3 linked regions of the Homo sapiens genome follow. The protein of the gene in region 3 interacts with the protein of the main gene of each other region in a pairwise test. Each region holds a gene or a part of one and is shown on either strand. Other genes may lie near its edges.

Region 1 (7,039 bases), on a different chromosome or scaffold from region 3:
AGTAAGAATTTGATGAAGACTATAAGCTTCCACTCTTCAGAAAAATTCACATAAGTTTACATACTCAAATGTGTCCAAATAATTTCAAGGAGTTCACTGACCTCTGCGGTTTATGGATAGGTTCAACGTTAGGGACTTTTGCTCTAGTTTTTTTTTTTTTTTTTTTTTTTTTTTTTTTTATAAGACAGAGTCTTTCTCTGTCGCACAGGCTGCTGAAATACAGTGGCGGGATCTTGACTCACTGCAACCTCTGCCTCCTCGGTTCAAGCGATTCTCCTGCCTCCGCCTCCCAAGTAGCTAGGAGTACAGGCACATTCCACCACGCCTGGCTAATTTTTGTATTTTTAGTAGAGAGGGCGTTTCATCATATTGGCCAGGCTGGACTTGAACTCCTGACCTCAAGTGATCTGCCTGCCTCGGCCTCCCAAAGTGCTAGGATTGCAGGTGTGAGCTACCGCACCTGGCCCATTGACAAGCTTTGAGCAGAGACTCCATGTAAGGTGAGACGGAGAAAGGGCACAGGTAGGCCATGGTGGCGGTGAGAGCATGGGGGAATGCGGTATGTGTGTGCATTTTACCAGCTACTTCTAAAATACATGGATGAGGTCAGAAGGGCCTGAACTATGGTGGCTGGACAGGAAATGGTGATTATGGGAGAAGCTTTGAAGGGAAAGCCAATCTAGTGACTGATTAGATACTGATGTTGGAGTTAAAAGGAGGACCAGAGATAACTGTCAACATGGGATCCTGAGTGACTGGAAAAAAGATAGTCTCATTCTCAGAAATAGTAATCAGAAGGGGAGCTGGTTTTATAGGGGAAGTGACTAGTTCATTTTAGATATCCTGAGTGTTTAATGACTTTGGGTGGGGGACAGTTCCAGCCCTAACGCATAGTCAGTTAGGCTGTTTTTTTGTTTTTGTTTTTTTGGCTCCAAGTTAAGTTTAGGATAAAGCCAGTATTATCTACCTTTGGATAAATAGACACATAGTAAACTTTACTCTTAATTAAACCACACAATCTCAAAAAAGGAGGCTAAAATTATACTCTAAAATAATATATTTATTAAATATATCATCAAAAGCTGACTTAAGAGACCTATGCGGTTAAACAAAGCAACCCAAATTATTTTGAGAAAGCATGAAGAATAAATGGCTGGCTGGGCATGGTAGCTCACACTTGTAATCCCAGCACTTTGGGAGGCCAAGACAGGTGGATCACGTTTGAAGTCAGGAGTTTGAGACCAGCCTGGCCAACATGGTGAAACCCCCGCCTCTACTAAAAATATAAAAATTAGCCAGGCGTGGTGGTGCATGCCTGTAATTCCAGCTACTTTGGAGGCTGAGGCAGGGGAATCACTTGAGCCAAGGAGGCGGAGGTTGCAGTGAGCCGAGATAGCGCCACTGCACTCCAGCCTGGGTGATAGAGTGAGACTCTGTCTCATAATAAATAAATAAATAAATAAATAAATAAATAAATAGTTGTTCATATAAATTACTTTAAAAATGCTGCCTTCAGTTTGGTTACATTAAAAGGAAAATTAGGGGAAGGAGGTATCAGTTTTAGGAAGAGAGCTTTGAACTAGAAATTAGGGACAGGAACCAGCACAGACCCTGCTGCTGTTGTTGGCTTGGCCTCTAGTGCTCCATGTTCTGGTAACAGCACTTTGTTTTCCTTTGGTGACTTGCTCACTTCTCATTTCATAAATTTGTTTCAACCTGTTTTTCTGGAGATAACTCTTAAAATAATTGACTGGTTTTCACCAAACTTGAAATAGTAATGTTACCAAGATACAAGCCAAGCAGAGTTCACATGTCATGTTGAAACAACAAAAAAGCCACTGATAATTTCAAAAAGTGCATCTTTATTCCTGGTGTGTACAAGACTGATGAGACTAAATCAATCAATATAAGTTTCAAAGCAGATAACTGCTGAATAGGTCTCCTGTTCACTGAGCCATTTATTACGAACTTGTATTTCGCCGACTGTGTAATTGTTGTTTGTGAAAAATGACCTAAAAGCATGACTTCACTTCTGTCAGCATAATCTTGATTCAGACTCAAATATTACAGACTTAACCAATTTCAATAAATATTTAATTTGCCAACAAAGTCACATCCAGGAAGCAAAACCCACTTGCACCTGCTCTGTGACTTTACAAAGAATGGGCCATTGCTTAGACAGAAAGGACCATACACGTCTTACCTGCAGTGGACAACCACAGGCCCTCGGCCCTGGGAAGCAAGTCTGTCTTCTTCTACATCCAGCATGAGCTGTAGGAGGGGCTGGGCACTGTCTGGAGTCTTGTGATCAGGCCATGAGGTGTACCAGTAATGCTTCACATGTTGGGTGTGGCTTCCTTGCTGAAAATAGCAACAGCCACCAAATGCCTCATTCACTTGTAGAACTAAAAGTCATCCAAACCACAATACTGAATGCCTTTTATCACCCCCATCTTGCTGGCAATTTATTTCTAGGTGGGAAAAAAATTTAGAAGATTTTTGAAGAGTGCCCTTTTACTTTGAGAAGACTTTACTGTCAGTAACCTGTTTGCAAAGTGAGAAAGTCATACCTTTGTTGAGATTTACATCTCTACCTATAGTTATAATATAGATCATATAAGTAACATATGCTAAATATATATTTATAATTTATTATAATAAACAAGATGGTAGGTGAAAATGTAGCCAAGAAAGAATGAGATATATTTTGTTTCCTGCTCTATGAGCATTCCTGACAAGTTATTATAAACATGTTAATCAATAGAACACTTAATTTCATATCAGTCATGCTAATACTTCTACACTCATCCAAAACTCCAGTATTTAATAGGAGTGAGGAATCACAGCAATAAAGAAGCTACATGAGATCCCTCTATTGGAAACACTTGGGTGAGGGCCCACACACCTCATCTCCAAACCCAGCACGGGTGAGGGTGTGGCATGAACCTCGCACTCCAGAACATGTGTTGAAAAATAAGTTTTGGTAAATGCCTTCCTATTCCAAACTTCCCCGGCACTCCAGAACATGTGTTGAAAAACAGGTTTTGGTAAACGCCTTCCTATTCCAAACTTCCCAACAAAAGCCATCACTGTAGCTCTGCCCCTGTTTTCTTCCTCTTTGTGATGATTCTATCCCAGCAGTGAGGCTGCAGATAAGATCGAAATTTTTGGGTGATTATTCTCCAGAAGCAAAAATAATACCATGGTAACATTTCTCAGCATCTGCTGCCCATGAGTTAAATAAGATAGTTTTCCTATGACATAATCTCGTCTGGGGAAAGTCCCTATAAATTACTGTAACTCCACGCTTCTGAAGATCTCATCAACACTTCAGGCTTGCCTTGCTTCCCACTGCCACCCACAAATGCAGATTTTCTCTTTCACAGCTTCCAGGCCTTACGCAAAGCTGCTTAGATCAAAATGACATTAAAAAAAATCATGGTAAAGTCTCCAGCACAGCCTTTAGTTAAAAGCTTTCAAAAGGTTAAATCAGAGATATTTTATTAACGCAAATTAGAGGATCACAACATCCTACATAATGAATTTTCTTAATGTCTACTTACATTCATTTAATTATACTGCATATTAATAGTAGTTGACAACAAAAAATACATGAGGGAATGATTATAGTTTCTCTTTGATCTTAACATTATTTAATTTGCTTAAATTGCATTTGTAGTACTTAAATAATTTCAAAGTAGAAATGTAATCCTCTAACATCATCTACTTTGTAGATGGCTATAGCTACATAATCTTACCTTTAAGACAAGGTTTCGAATGGTGTAGTTATCACATTCATTTACACTGATAACCAGAACCTCAACTTTTCCATATATCCCTCTCTTTTCCGGCCAGTATAGCACACATTTCTGGAGGAAGGGAAAGAGAATACAGCAAATATTAATGGCTTTTATTAGCCATGGAGTACTTTTCATTCAAGCATCTCAAGAGTTTTATATCATTAGTTTTAAAATATCAAATATCAATTTTTATAGTTTTGTAAATATACTAAAACCATTGAATTGTAAATCTTAAGCAGCTAGATTTTATGGTATATAAATTATATCTCAACAGTTTTTTTTAAAGTATCAGTTTCATATGTGCCTATTAAACACTGTCACTGCTGGCTCCATACAAAAAAAAAAGGCAGAATTACCCAAAACTCCTCAGAGAAATTAAGAACTAATTAAGAAGTTAAGAAATTTAAGAGTTAAGAAATTGAGATCCAAATATTAGAATTTATCATGTGCTGACTAGAAATAAAAGAATGTTTTCCCACAATAATTGAGGAAAGTTACATTTTCCTGCTTCAACAAACTTATGTCTAATGAGAATATCTAATATGTTAGGTGGCATACAACCAAGTTTCCTTTATATGTAAGGCAGATATAATGATCATTAATACAACTATGGTATTATATTTTCCCGGACCAACAGTTTTTTTCACTTATGGAACTAATTTACAAAAATTACGTTAAAAATATTTTTATAATGGATCCTCCTGAGGAGCTTTAAAAGAGTGACAATAATTATACTGCAAGCAAGGCAACATAGCATGGTGGTTAAGGCGCAGGCTTTGAACTCGGAACCTGAGTCCAAATTTTGGTTCTACCATTCATTACCTGTGAATCCACGAACAAGATACTTAAACCCTTTGGTTATAGTTTCTTTATTATTGGCTATCTGGAAAGTACTTAGGATAAAGCCAGGCATAGAGTAAGCACTTACAACATGTTATTATTGCTGTTGTTATTTTAAAACTACTGGGTGATAGGTTTTTGGCCCAAAGTGATTAGATCTTCATGCATTAAATATTATTTTGGTATTATTATAGTCAGTTATCATTATTAAATAAAAATTGCAAAATGAGATTCAAGCATACATATAATCTCATTTTGCTTTTTAAACAACTGTAAAATAACTATTTTTTACCACAAATTTTGATGATAAAGAATGTAAAATGACAAATGTTTATGTTTTATTTTGAGTGCTCTTGGAAGCAATGTTAATTTTAGAAATGTTTAAATAGCACTTATTTTCTCCCAACCATACATACATTTACATAGAAATTCTTTCATTTGTTGCCTTCAATCAGAACCTTTTAATACCCAGGACACTTGTTTCTTCACATCTTTGTCAAAGGCATATGAATACACTTGATAAAAATTTAAATACTTATAGATTTAAAAGAGCAGCAAAAGACTCACAAAATTATAGAACTGAAGGAAAAGTGACACAAAGTATCAGAAACACACCTCCAGGGCTCTATTATGCTAAGTACCACTACTCTACAAGCTAGCACAGCGAAGGAAGTCACTTCACCTAGCAGAATCAGTTTCTTTCATCCATTACAATAAAAACACATTTACATCCTCTACATTTTGACCCTTTTTCTAAATGAAGTAAATTGTTTCAGCTTTATTTACATGCCACCTGAGACTCTCAGGCTATCAGACCAAAAGACTTACTCTGGCTGACTTAATGTTAACATTAAGAGAAGAAACCTTTTTAAAGTAGAGCAACTCATTTCTCTCGAAATCTATGAGTTGCCAAATGTCTAAAATTTTCCCACTTTGTTAAAGGTAATCATACAAACCAATTTGCCTGGTTTCTTTCAATGAAGCATCAATTATTTCGCTGTAAGACCCGAGCTACTGTGTATCTTAAAACCCATGCCTCCCGATGAGTCCAAGAAGAATGACAAAGAATCTTGGAAAAGGTATTGAACAAAGAAAGAGGCATTCATTCAGTAGTCCAGCAGTCTGGCGTACGTGCCCCATTGTCCACGATCAGACCTGAGCAGCAGGGCCCTCTTTAGGAAGGTGGCTCTCAAAACCAGTAAGAAAAGCTGCAAAGCAGGAGCTTGCCGCCTGCACCCTGACTCTTAATACTTGCACAGGCTTCTGCACCTACTTGATAAATGGAAATGCTGCTCGCTTCTCTCCCAAGCTTGCCGGGGGCCCTCTTGAATGTTTTTTTTGACTCGTTACCAAAAAAGCAATTGGCAGTCAGCTCCCAGTAGACAATGCAATGTGACTTGTTCATTCAAACAACCCTTAATTAGCATCCCATCTCCTTTCTGAGATACAATAGCTTATTTTTACACACTGAATACATTTTTCCCTCATTTAGATGACAGAAAAAGAGACCAGATAAGTGTGGGTACTTTTGAATATGAGGTGGGGGACAGCTGCAAATGCAGTTGTTTCTAAGAGTACAAGTTCATGTTCAAATTATTTTCCTGTACAGCTTTTTAGGGTTTCTTTATTGTGGTGCTAACAATGAGATAAAAGAGGCAGAAAAGGCAGGGAAGAAAAATGCTGCCTTACAGATAATACTGTGAAACCACACTAATTGTAGGTGATTCAAAATAGCATGCTATTTAGCAGAATATAACCCCAAATCATCACTATTCTTTTGCTAGCTAGGCTTATCCTTTCAGTAAAATTATCTATTAATTCTAAGAATCCATAATTTGGAAGAAAAAAATAGGTTTCCAGAGGACAGTGTCTCTTGTGCAAACAAGTTATTATCAAACTCTGACTGAAAAGATTCTGGACATTAACCAGTGCTTTGTAACTGGTGGTTTACAGCAAAAGTAGGATGTAACACAAAGCAATGCAAATTCTTTTTTTTTTTTTTTTTTTTTTTTTTTTTTTTTTTGTGATGGAGTCTCATTCTATCACTCAGGTTGGAGTGCAGTGGCACAATGTCAGCTTACTGCAACCTCCACCTCCCGGGTTCAAGCGATTCTCCCGCCTCAGCCTCCCAAGTAGCTGAGATTACAGGTGTGCACCATCACGCCCAGCTAATTTTTGTATTTTTAGTAGAGACGGGGTTTCACCATGTTGGCCAGACTGGTCTTGAACTCCTGACCTCAGGTGATCTGCCCACCTTGGCCTCCCAAAGTCCTGGGATTATAGGCGTGAGCCACTGCGCCCGGCCGCCAGCTCATATTTTTGTGATCTTTTTTCTTCCCTTGATTCTCCTTCTGGCCCCCACCAAGTTAGGGCTATGTGAGGAGGCGGTCTAGCTAGTT
Region 2 (6,891 bases), on a different chromosome or scaffold from region 3:
TTCCCTCTGCACCATCCCTGCTCCATCCTTCAAGGCGCCCCCTCCCCGACTGAGTCTCAGCCTCTCAAAACGGTGAGTCCATCTTTCCCCAGGGGACGTTCCATCACTGACCAGTCCCCTACCAACGGTCCCAGCCCCGCCAGAGGAGTTGGAGTTGCTGTTTCCACCTAAGACTGGGGGGCCTGACGAGGTCTCCAGGGGCCCAGCGGAGGAGGGAGGGTCAACGGTCCCCCGCCACTGCAGGATGCCACGGACTGAGCCTCGGACAGAGCGACCCACTGAACGCAGGGAAAAGCGCTTCTTGAGCTTCGGCTTGGAGGAGGTTGTAGAGGAGGAAGAGACTGAGGAAGGGAGGGGGCCGGCCAGGTCCTCAGATGATCGAGAAGGGCCCAGCACAGCCAGGGGCCCACCCACCCTGCAGCTCTCAAGGGACAGGTCATGTGGCGAAATCTCCGCACCAGGGCTCAGGGGAGCCAGGATGGGTGGCGACAGGGAGCCAGAGGCCCGGGCCACCTCGGCTTCAAAGTGCTGCAGGAAGAGCTCAGCAAAACGGCGGGAGAAGGCAGCCTCGGCCCCGGGCCCCGCATATTGGGGGTGGGAGGCCAGGTAGAGGCGAAAACGGCGGGCAAAGTCCAGAGCCGCAGCCCGGGCGTGGGACTCACAGAACTCCCGCCAACTAGGGGGCGGGGGTGGGGGCAGCGGGGGAGACGAGGGGGAGGCCCCGTCCTCTGGGGAAGGGGCACCATTCATGATGGGCCCCAGGAGGTGGAGAGGGGGAGCCTGTGGGGCACAAAGAGGGAGGCAGCCAGAAGACGAGGGGTGGGCGGCAGCAGCTGCGAAAGGAAGAGAGAGGCACACACGAGGGTCACTGCTGAGGGCGCACCGGAGGCTGCATCCCACCCCCAGCCAGAGACGTCCGACCCTACTTCAGACTCCGCAGAGAGCAATGGGGAAGGGAGCCCAACACCTCCCTTCCCTCTCCCAGATCCTGGCACCCTGCAGGCCCCAGCCAACTGGCTCCCCAGCGTCTAACCTGCCCCGAGCCTGCCACATTTGCCCCCACTTTCCTTAGCTTTGGATCCAGCAGTAGAGGGCTTTGGAGCACCTTCCCCCTAAAAAAGGGAACTTTTCCAGATCACCCCCCCTCTACATCGGATCCTCCAATATTCATGTCACACTTCCCATGAGCCATTCTAGAGGCTCCCACTTGGTTATCTTACCTTTCCCTGAGAGGTTTCAAAGACCTCTCGAACAGATGAGGAAACCGAAGCTCAGAAAAGTTTCAGAACTCCAAGTCTACTGTTTTCCCCACTTCATAGTCCCTGTCCCCAGGGCCCGGCTGGGCCAGCCTCAGCCATAGCACCTCACCGCCCCAGCTCGCAGGGGGCTAGAGAGGAGCTGGGATTCTAGACCTTAGAGAGCCTGCCTCACGCATCTTAGGGTCCAACTCTTTGGAGGGGGCCGATTCATTAATGAGGATGGATGCATGATGGACCAAAACAGTAATTGTCTTGAAAGCTGACCCCAGAGTCCAGCACCCACGCACTGCGTGAAGGAGATGTGAAATAGCTACAGCCCACTTCTTTGGTATCCCTTCAGTCTGGGGCCAGAGGCCGCAGGGGCCCCAGAGGAGAAACTGGGTTGGCTCAGGTCAAGTCTTTGCTGGCCTCACGTAAACAAAACATCACAGGGAGAGCTGGGGCCCTAGGATTTTTCACCTTCCTCTTCTCCCACTGGGGAGTATGCCCTAAAGGCAGGTTAGCCTTCTGGTTAAGGCCATGGACTTGAGTCAGACCAGGGCTCAAACCACCTTATGAGCACCCAGTCCAGCCACCTTATGAGCGATGTTATCTTGAACAAATTCCACGTCCTCTCTGAGCCTCCGTTTTTCTATCTGTTAAACAAAGCTAATGATCCCTCCCCTCGAAATGTTGAGAGAATTACATGGAATGGGGTATGTCAGCGCTGAACGCAAAGTAAGCATCCGCTGAACGACTGCCATTGTTACTATCTTCATGTGGGAGAAGAATATTATTGTTCCAATTTTCTAAAATAGAAATTAGAGAAAGGAGGAGCCCTCTCAAGGTCTTACAACTAGAAAGTGGCAGAGCTGGGTGTGGAATTTACAACCCTTGGCTCTTGTTAGCGCTCCTCCCGCCACGCAATACTGGAAGGTGACAGCCCCAGGACTGGGGCCAGAGCAGCTCAGGAAAGCCTCCCCAAACCCTCAGCGACCTCAGACTCCTGTTCAAACCTACAGCCAGGCTGTAAGTCGGTGAACCCTCCCCTTCCTCCTGGGCCTCGACCCTACAAGCTCAGATGGCTCCAACCGCAGGGACAACTCCAAACCAACGAGAAACAATCAGGAGATGCAGGAGTCATGGAGCACGGGGGAACCCAGCCAAGAAGTGCAAACCAATCTCCAGCCAGCGGCCACCTCGGCTCACACAGGCCCACCCAATCCTCCGCACCGCAGACAGACCCAGCCCCCTTCAGGCCCGCTGACCCTGCGACTCCTAAGCTGGTGACTCAGTTTCTCTTCTGCCAAGCAGGACTCAGACACATTTTCCCGGTGCACCTGCCTCCTGGCTCAGTTCTGATATTTCCCGAAGGGCGGGAGGTGGAGGGTGCAGGCTCCGCTCTCGGCTCGGACCCTCCGGGCCCGGTGGTCCATATACTCCGATCCGACCCTACTCCCTGGACACCCCCCAGCCGCCCATTTTCCGGGGCCGCATCCACCTCGGGACCAGCCCTGTCTGCTGCACTCTCCGGGGCCGAGTGCCTCTCCAGCCCCCGGCCCTCCACGCCCACCCCCACCCAGGAATCCTCTCGGGCGCCAGGGCCGGGTCGCGGAGAGGGAAAAGGTACTTGAAGAGGGGGGTTCCGGTTCCGGTCCCACCTGCATCTCGGTCCCCGAGGTTAGCTCCGGCGGCGGCGGCGGCGGCGGCGGCTCCCGCTCCCTGCGCCCCCACCCACTACGCGACGAGCGCCCAGCCCGGTTCCGCGCAGGCGTCAGGACCCCCTTTCCCGTCGCTGAAGGAAGAGACCATAGAGAACAGCGGCGGGAGGGAAGGGCACCTTCATACTTACTTCCGCCATCCTCCCACTCGGCGCCGACCCCAGGAGACCGAAGACGGTGTGAATCTCGTAGGGCTTCAGTGCCTTCTCCAGTTGCACCTAAAAGCGACCACAGACGCAGCGGGGGAAGTGCTTGGATCCCACCAGAGCGTCCTCCCGGAGGAAATTCGGGACAAAGGGGCGATGTCGACCATAGAGAACCGGCCTTAGGGGATAGAGTCCCAGGGCCCGGCTGAGGGCTAGAGTAGCCGCCGAGCACCGGAAACCAGCGAGATGATGAGGCTGTGTGAACGGCCCGCTGCAGCCTAGAGCGCCGGCCCCGCTGTGGAGGGGCACGCGGACAACGCCACCAAGGAGCTGAGCGAGGAAAGAAGCGGGTGACCTTGGGGAGGCCCTGCGGGGAGGCGGAGCCTGAACTTACGACCTTGGTTTATCTGAGGAAAGGGGCAGGCGGTCCAGGAGTTTGCATCTCTGAGGCTGGAGATGAAGATGGTGGTAGTGGTGGGGGAGGGGGTGGGTAGAAATAATGAGGTCAGGGCCGGGCGCAGTGGCTCATGCCTGTAATCCCAGCACTTCGGAAGGCCGAGGCAGGTGGATCACCTGAGGTCAGGAGTTCGAGACCAGCCTGGCCAACATGGTGAAACCCCGTCTCTACTAAAAATACAAAAATTAGCCGGGCATGGTGGCGCGCGCCTGTAGTCCCAGTCCCTCCGGAGGCAGAGGCAAGAGAATAGCTTGAATCCGGAAGGCAGAGATTGCGGTGAGCCGAGATGGCGCCACGGCACTCCAGCCCAGGCAACAGAACTAGAATCCCTATTTTAAAAATAGAAAAAAAAAAAATGAGGTCAGGGCCGGGAGCGCTGGCTCACGCCTGTAATCCCAGCCCTTTGGGAGGCCGAGGCGGGCGGATGGCTTGAGGTCAGGAGTTTGAGACCAGCCTGACCAACATGGTGAAACCCCGTCTGTACTAAAAATACAAAAAATTTAGCCGGGCGTGGTGGCAGGCGCCTGTAATCCCAGCCCCTTGGGAGACCGAGGCAGGAGAACAGCTTGAACCCGGGAGGCAGAGGTTGCGGTGAGCCGAGATGGCGCCACGGCACTCCAGCGCGGGCAACAGAGCTAGACTCCCTATCAAAAAAAAAAAAAAAAAAAAAGAATTGAGGTCAAGGCCGGACGCAGTGGCTCACGCCTGTAATCCCAGCACTTTGGGAGGCCGAGGCGGGCGGATCACTTGAGGTCAGGAGTTTGAGACCAGCCTGACCAACATGGTGAAACCCCATCTGCAATAAAAATACAAAAATTTTAGCCGGGCTTGGTGGCAGGCGCCTGTACTCCCAGCTACTTGAGAGGAGGCTGAGGCAGAAGAATCACTTGAACCCCAGAGTCGGAAGTTGCAGTGAGCCAAGACTGCGCCACTGCAATCCAGCCTGGGCAAAAGAGCGAGACTCCATCTCAAAAATAATAACAATAATAATAATGAGGTCAATTCCAGACGTGCTTTTGGGACGTCTGTGGGCATATAGTCTGGAGCTAAGAAGAGACATCAAGGCCAGTTAGAGAAATCGAGAACAATTAAAGTACGGAGGGTAGTTGAAAGCATGAGCACAGTGAGATCCTCCACCCATCCAGTGTCTGATTGACCCGGCTCCAGCTGGCCTAAACAGTAAAGGAAGCTATGGCCCAAGTAATCGAAAAGTCCAGAGCGGACAGATTCAGACAGGTGAACACAGGGGCCAGAAGATATCAGGAACCTGTGGCTCACCATCTCTGGTTCTGCCTTCCCTATGCATTTGGCTTCACCCTCAGGCAGGCTCTCCTCTCTTAGTGGCAAAATAGCTTCTTGTAGCTCCAAGCTTAAACCCTAATAGCTTAGCAACTCTCCTAGAAGGAGCATGCCTCTTTTCTGAGATTCCCAATGAAATTTCCAGAACTGAGTAGCTGATTGGATCAAGTGCCCATCCTGGAACTCGAAGACAAATAAATAACCCAAGAGGGGAAGACGGATAAATCCTGACTCACCTAAGAATGTTCAAGGCCGGGCACAGTGGCTCACGCCTGTAATCCCAGCACTTTGGGAGGCCGAGACAGGCGGATCATGAGGTCAGGAGATCAAGACCATCCTGGCTAACACGGTGAAACCCCATCTCTGCTAAAAATACAAAAAAAATTAGCCAGGCGTGGTGGCGGGTGCCTGTAGTCCCAGCTACTGGGGAGGCTGAGGCAGGAGAATGGCGTGAACCTGGGAGGCAGAGCTTGCAGTGAGCCGAGATCGCACCACTGCACTCCAGCCTGGGCGACAGAGCGAGACTCCGTCTCAAAAAAAAAAATGTTCTAAGATGGCCGGGCGCAGTGGCTCACGCCTGTAATCCCAACACTGGGAGGCTGAGGCGGGCGCATCATGAGTTCAGGAGTTCAAGACCATCCTGGCCAACATAGTGAAACCCCACCTCTACTAAAAATACAAAAATTAGCTGGACATGGTGGCACATACCTGTAATCTCAGCTACTCAGGAGGCTGAGGCAGGAGAATCACTTGAATCTGGGAGGCGGAGGCTGTGGTGAGCCAAAATCGTCCCACGGCACTCCAGCCTGGGCAACAGAGCGAGACTCCATCTCAAAAAACAAAAAAGTGCTGGGCATGGTGGCTCAGTCCTGTAATCAATCCCACTGTTATCAATCCCAGCACTTTGGGAGGCTATGGTGGGCAGATCACTTGAGGTCAGGAGTTTGAGACCAGCCTAGCCAACATGGCGAAACCTCATCTCTACCAAAAATATAAAAAATTAGCCACGTGTGGTGGCGCGTGCCTGTAATCCCAGCTGCTTGGGAGGCTGAGGCACGAGAATCGCTTGAACCTGGGAGGTGGAGGTTGCAGTGAGCCAAGATCATGCCACTGCACTCCAGACTGGGCAACAGAGCGAGACTCCATCTCAAGAAATTAAAAAAAAAACAAATCTGGAGTCCTAACTGTTGGAACAGAAATCACATACCAGAGACCAGGGAGTGTGGGAGTGAGTATAAGATGTGTGTGTGTCGGGGGGAAATGGGCAAACACAAACACAAATGATATAAAGGGATCCGTGGGGGATCACAGGGTGTGCTGCCATGGTCTCTAGAAGGCATTGATAACTAAGAGACTGCTGCGTGACTTGGTGAGAGTAGTTTCAGCAGAGGCCAAATGGTAGTGGTTTGAGGAATGAGTGGAAGGTAAAGAAGTGGGAGGAGGCTGGGCACGGTGGCTCCCGCCTGTAATTCCAGCACTTTGGGAGGCCAAGGCAGGCGGATCACCTGAGGTCAGGAGTTTGAGACCCGCCTGGCCAACATGGCAAAACCCTGTCTCTACTAAAATTAGCCAGGCGTGGTGGCACGCACCTGTAATCCCAGCTACTTGGGAGGCTGAGGCAGGAGAATCGCTTGAACCTGGGAGGTGGAGGTCGCAGTGAGCCAAGATCGTGCCACTGCATTCCAGCCTGGGTGACAGAGCAAGACTCCATCGTAAAAAAAAAAAAAAAAAAAATTCAAGAAGTGGGAGGAAAAATGTGGAGAGATGTTCTACACAGTTTGGCTGAAAAGGGGAGGACAGAGATAAGGCAGGTTGTAAGTGTGAGAAGGTAGAAAGGTTTGCTTGTTTGTTTCTATCTTGAGGAAGATCTGATTTTGTTGGAAACATTAAGGGGAAAGGAATCAGTAGAGAGGATGGTCGCTGAAGGAGCAAGGTTGCGGAGAAGGTTGGTGGGGACGTTATCCAGGGCCCAGGTTAAGCCAAGGCATTAATATGAAGGGGAGAAACCCTTCTTCCTCATAAGCAGGGAT
Region 3 (4,486 bases):
GAGGGAGCCCATGCAGGGTGTGGAGCAGGAGGCGAGGCCAGACCCAAGGTTGAGTGTGGAGGAGGATAGGCACAGAGGAGCCCAAGAAGGCCAGGGAGGAGCCTATCTCTTTGCTCCCAGACATGGCATAGGCTCAGTGCTGGTCTTGGGGACACAGGCTAGGGAGATACCAGCATCTGGGGCCCAGGCTGTGGGAGACGAGGCTCTAACTGCTGGATGGAACACTGGGGGAATCAATGGAGGGAATCATTAATGCTCAGAGATGAGTCTGGAAGACTTCCCCTAGGAGGGACCATCTGTTCCTTCTCCCCTCCAGGCCTTTGTACTTCCAGTTCCCTCTGCCTGGGGCATTGGGCCTCCCTCCCTCCATAGAAAGATGGAGACAGACACACAAACTCTACCCCTCCCTGCCTCAGCTCCCTTCGAATGGCTTCAGGACTTGAGTCTCAATTTAGGTGTCCCTTCCTCTAGGAAGCCTTCCCTGGCTTTTTCCATTCCCACCCGTGGTGCCTGCCAGGTGCCCCTCACACTGCACTGCCATGACCTGCTTATCTGCATCATACTCTGCACTGTAGCCCCAGTGCTTGGCACACTGGAAATGTTTAACAAATGCCTCAACTAAACAAATGAGGAGAAGATTGGCTAGTAGGAAAGGGCATTTTTGGCAAAGTGATCAGTTCAGGCAAAGGTTCAGGAGAAGGAACATTGGGGAATATGGATGAGTGACTAGGACTGACCCGAGTGCTCGCTCTGGGGAGAAGGCGGGCATCCTGGACACCTTCGAAAGGAAGGAAGACCCCGTAGGAATGGCTGGACACTGAGGGCAGAGGGGAGAGAGACAGGACAATCAAGGACTCCCTGGTTTCAGGGTCTGCCTGGGTGGGAAGGGTCCCTTCCCTGAGGCAGGGGCAGGCTTGGGGAAAGACACCGAGCTCCAATTGGCAAGGGCTGAGTCTGACATGCCTATGGCAAGGGATGTAGGGGCCAGTGGGCATCTGGAGTTCAAGGAGCTGCCAGAGAGGAAGGCATGGATGTGGGAACCATGGGCTGTCTCTGGTGGGAGCCCTGGAGGTGGGCACACCTGTTCCGCTCCTCCATCCCACCCCTCTGGACAGCTGCCTCTACTGTTCTCTCAATCCTCCACTTCCAGGTCCCCAGTCTCCTCTCCCATCACACGCGGCTGCTGGGGATCGCCTTCCTCAGGCTCCTGGGAGTTCTATCCTCCCAGCCTATCCCCTCTCCTTTTCTTGTTCACAGATCCCATGGACCTGATGCCAAGCTGCTGGCTGGTGGGGAGGATGTGGCTCCAGGCCCCCTGGGTCTGGGGCAGCTGCTGGCCGTGGCTAGCCAGGTCGCTGCGGGGATGGTGTACCTGGCGGGTCTGCATTTTGTGCACCGGGACCTGGCCACACGCAACTGTCTAGTGGGCCAGGGACTGGTGGTCAAGATTGGTGATTTTGGCATGAGCAGGGATATCTACAGCACCGACTATTACCGTGTAAGGGTCCTTTGTCCCCAACGCCTTCCCCTGCATCCAAACTGTAGACACCCTGGATCCCAAGACCACTGAGAGCCTGCCCTTGCTAGGATGGCTGCATGGGTCTGAGATTCACTGGCTCTGGTTTTCAACCTACCTCCTCGGCTCCTGGTGGAGGGGGCTCTGTCTCCTTCGCTATCCCAGATGGAAACAGCACCTTCGGTTTTTGCCTCTTAGACCTGAGAGCCACCACTGTTTGTTTATTTATTTATTTAATTTATTTTTTTGAGACGGCGTCTCACTCTGTTGCTAGGCTGGAGTGCAGTGGCACGATCTCGGCTCACTGCAACCTCTGACTCCCTGGTTCAAGCGATTCTCCTGCTTCAGCCTCCCGAGTAGCTGGGATTACAGGCCACACGCCATCACGCCCAACTAATTTTTGTATTTTTAGTAGAGATGGGGTTTCACCATGTTGGCCAGGATGGTCTCGATCTCCTGACCTCGTGATTGCCCACCTCGGCCTCCCAAAGTGCTGGGATTACAGGCGTGAACCACCGAGCTTGTGTATTTATTTTTAATGATGGGGCTGGGGTAGGCTGTGCCTTGACGGGCTGTCCCAGGCGCCCCTGGAATTGATGCAGTGTCCGCCCGTGGCAGGTGGGAGGCCGCACCATGCTGCCCATTCGCTGGATGCCGCCCGAGAGCATCCTGTACCGTAAGTTCACCACCGAGAGCGACGTGTGGAGCTTCGGCGTGGTGCTCTGGGAGATCTTCACCTACGGCAAGCAGCCCTGGTACCAGCTCTCCAACACGGAGGTCAGCCCCGGCCCATGGTCACCCCTTGCTGGCCTCCCCGTCCCATGCCCCTTCAGGTTCCTTTTTCAGGGAACTCGGTTCCCCTTCTGCCCCTCTGCCACAGCCTGTTGGGGGGCCCTTTCCAGCGCCGTGCCCACACTGTGTCCCCTCCACTGTGGCCCTTTTCTTCTCTTCCTCCCTTATTCTTGCCTTCACCTACTGTCCTAAGCCCAGGCCCAGTTGGCCCCTGGGGGAACCTCAAAGTGCTTTGTACAAGGAGCCCAGACCCCCATCCCTAGCTGCATTTTATAGACCTAAGCAGGAATTATCAGAGTGGAAGGGACCAGCACGGGAAGAGGAACCCAGCACAAGAAGGCCCAACACTGCAGCAGGACGGCTGGAGGTTAGACTGTCAGAAGGACAGTCCTACCCCCTCCCCCTGCCCTCCTAGCTGGCCACAGCCAGAGCAGGCCCCAGGTGTTCTGTCTCCCAGAGCAGCTGCCCCCACCCCCTGCTTGGCTCGCAGCTGTCAGTTTCCATTTCTCCTCCTAATGCAGTCTGCTCCCCGGAGGCTGGTGGGGTGGGGGAGAGGGTTATAGATTTTAATTTTCTCAAGCACTGAGAGAAGAAATGGAATTAGTGCCGCCCATAACCCAAGTCCTCTAATAGGGAGGGGGGAAGAAGGGGAAAAGAGGCTCCAGGCCCCTTCTCCAATCACTCCCTGCCACCCTTTCTCCTTTGGATTCCTTGGCTGCTTTAGCAGTTCTTCCTAGAGTCTAACTTTGATCTTTCTTGCTGCAGTTTCTTTTTGGGAGAGCTAGTCAGTCCCACAGAGTGGTATCCCTAGAAGGGAGAAGTAAGGATTGCCCTCTTCTTTAAAATGAAAGCCAGCTATTTTTCACGCCCTTTAACTGCAGTTCTGCTCTATTTTCTTTTCTCTCTCTGGAGCTGAGAGTCAGAGGGCCCTTCTCCTCCTCCTTTCAGCCCCCAACACTAAGCTGATGGATTGATAAATACCTCAGCCCCTCGCCTTCCTCAACCCACCTGGCAAGTCTTCTTAGGATCTGATCCCAGTTTTCTGGAAGCAATCCTACCCCAGCCCAAGCTTCCCATAGTCGAGCCTTAATCCTTCTCACTTCTCAGTGTCAGAGCAGAAATGAATCCTGGGGTTGACTGTGTCCATTCGGGTTATTAGCAGCTAAGAAGCCCAGACGAGTAGTGTGAGCTGCCTTGGGAGCCTCAGTGAGGGCACTGGGACTGGCCTCACTCTCTTGCCCCCAGCCTAGTGGGCTTTCTCCTCTGTCTCTCCGGTGGCCCCAGGCAATCGACTGCATCACGCAGGGACGTGAGTTGGAGCGGCCACGTGCCTGCCCACCAGAGGTCTACGCCATCATGCGGGGCTGCTGGCAGCGGGAGCCCCAGCAACGCCACAGCATCAAGGATGTGCACGCCCGGCTGCAAGCCCTGGCCCAGGCACCTCCTGTCTACCTGGATGTCCTGGGCTAGGGGGCCGGCCCAGGGGCTGGGAGTGGTTAGCCGGAATACTGGGGCCTGCCCTCAGCATCCCCCATAGCTCCCAGCAGCCCCAGGGTGATCTCAAAGTATCTAATTCACCCTCAGCATGTGGGAAGGGACAGGTGGGGGCTGGGAGTAGAGGATGTTCCTGCTTCTCTAGGCAAGGTCCCGTCATAGCAATTATATTTATTATCCCTTGGCTGTGTCTCTTGCCAGTTATTGGGATGACGTCGTTCCAGGAGGGAGGCATTGGGATTCAGGTAGGGGGACAGCTCTCTGGGATCTTCCCCCACTCAGGTTCCCCTCAGCTGCCTACCCCTACTCCATGGACCTGTCACTCTCACCTTTGACTATAGTTTGGATCCCATTCCCATGGTCACCTGGCTCACCTGCTGGTAAGGCAGCCTCTGGTCAAACTTCCTAGACCTTGAGAGCCTAACTGTCAATCTTTGTAGTTCATGTTCAGGAAGGCTGGGCTATAGTGGAAGGGGTGGAAGTTAGATGTACTGGTAGGATGGGAGCGTTGATGGGGTGTCTTCCTTGTATTGGTGTGTCCGGGACAGAGCAAGCACGCAGCAGCAGATGAGAGAGAAACATGTGTGTGTGTGTGTGGGGTGATGGGGGGCAGGAAAGGGACGGAGCTGGACTAAGGATTGATGGAGGCAGGACCCCTTGTTCCTGCCCCTCTGTTACTCTTCT

What was found.
Region 1: the proteins of NTRK1 (region 3) and PTPRR interact in a two-hybrid assay, tested with the Homo sapiens proteins (one study listed by BioGRID and IntAct).
Region 2: the proteins of NTRK1 (region 3) and SH2B1 interact in a two-hybrid assay, tested with the Homo sapiens proteins (2 studies listed by BioGRID).

The regions. Positions count from the first base shown.
Region 1 is NC_000012.12:70,658,737-70,665,775, forward strand, and holds part of PTPRR (receptor-type tyrosine-protein phosphatase R isoform 1 precursor), read right to left. Parts: intron 3,870-7,039; coding exon 3,759-3,869; intron 2,472-3,758; coding exon of another isoform or gene 2,466-2,471; exon of another isoform or gene 2,362-2,465; coding exon 2,204-2,361; intron 1-2,203. UniProt on the Homo sapiens protein: Sequesters mitogen-activated protein kinases (MAPKs) such as MAPK1, MAPK3 and MAPK14 in the cytoplasm in an inactive form.
Region 2 is NC_000016.10:28,859,954-28,866,844, reverse strand, and holds the start of SH2B1 (SH2B adapter protein 1), read right to left. Parts: upstream 3,003-6,891; 5' UTR 751-3,002; coding exon 1-750. UniProt on the Homo sapiens protein: Adapter protein for several members of the tyrosine kinase receptor family.
Region 3 is NC_000001.11:156,877,865-156,882,350, forward strand, and holds the end of NTRK1 (high affinity nerve growth factor receptor isoform 2 precursor), read left to right. Parts: intron 1-1,257; coding exon 1,258-1,498; intron 1,499-2,134; coding exon 2,135-2,293; intron 2,294-3,592; coding exon 3,593-3,778; 3' UTR 3,779-3,986; downstream 3,987-4,486. UniProt on the Homo sapiens protein: Receptor tyrosine kinase involved in the development and the maturation of the central and peripheral nervous systems through regulation of proliferation, differentiation and survival of sympathetic and nervous neurons.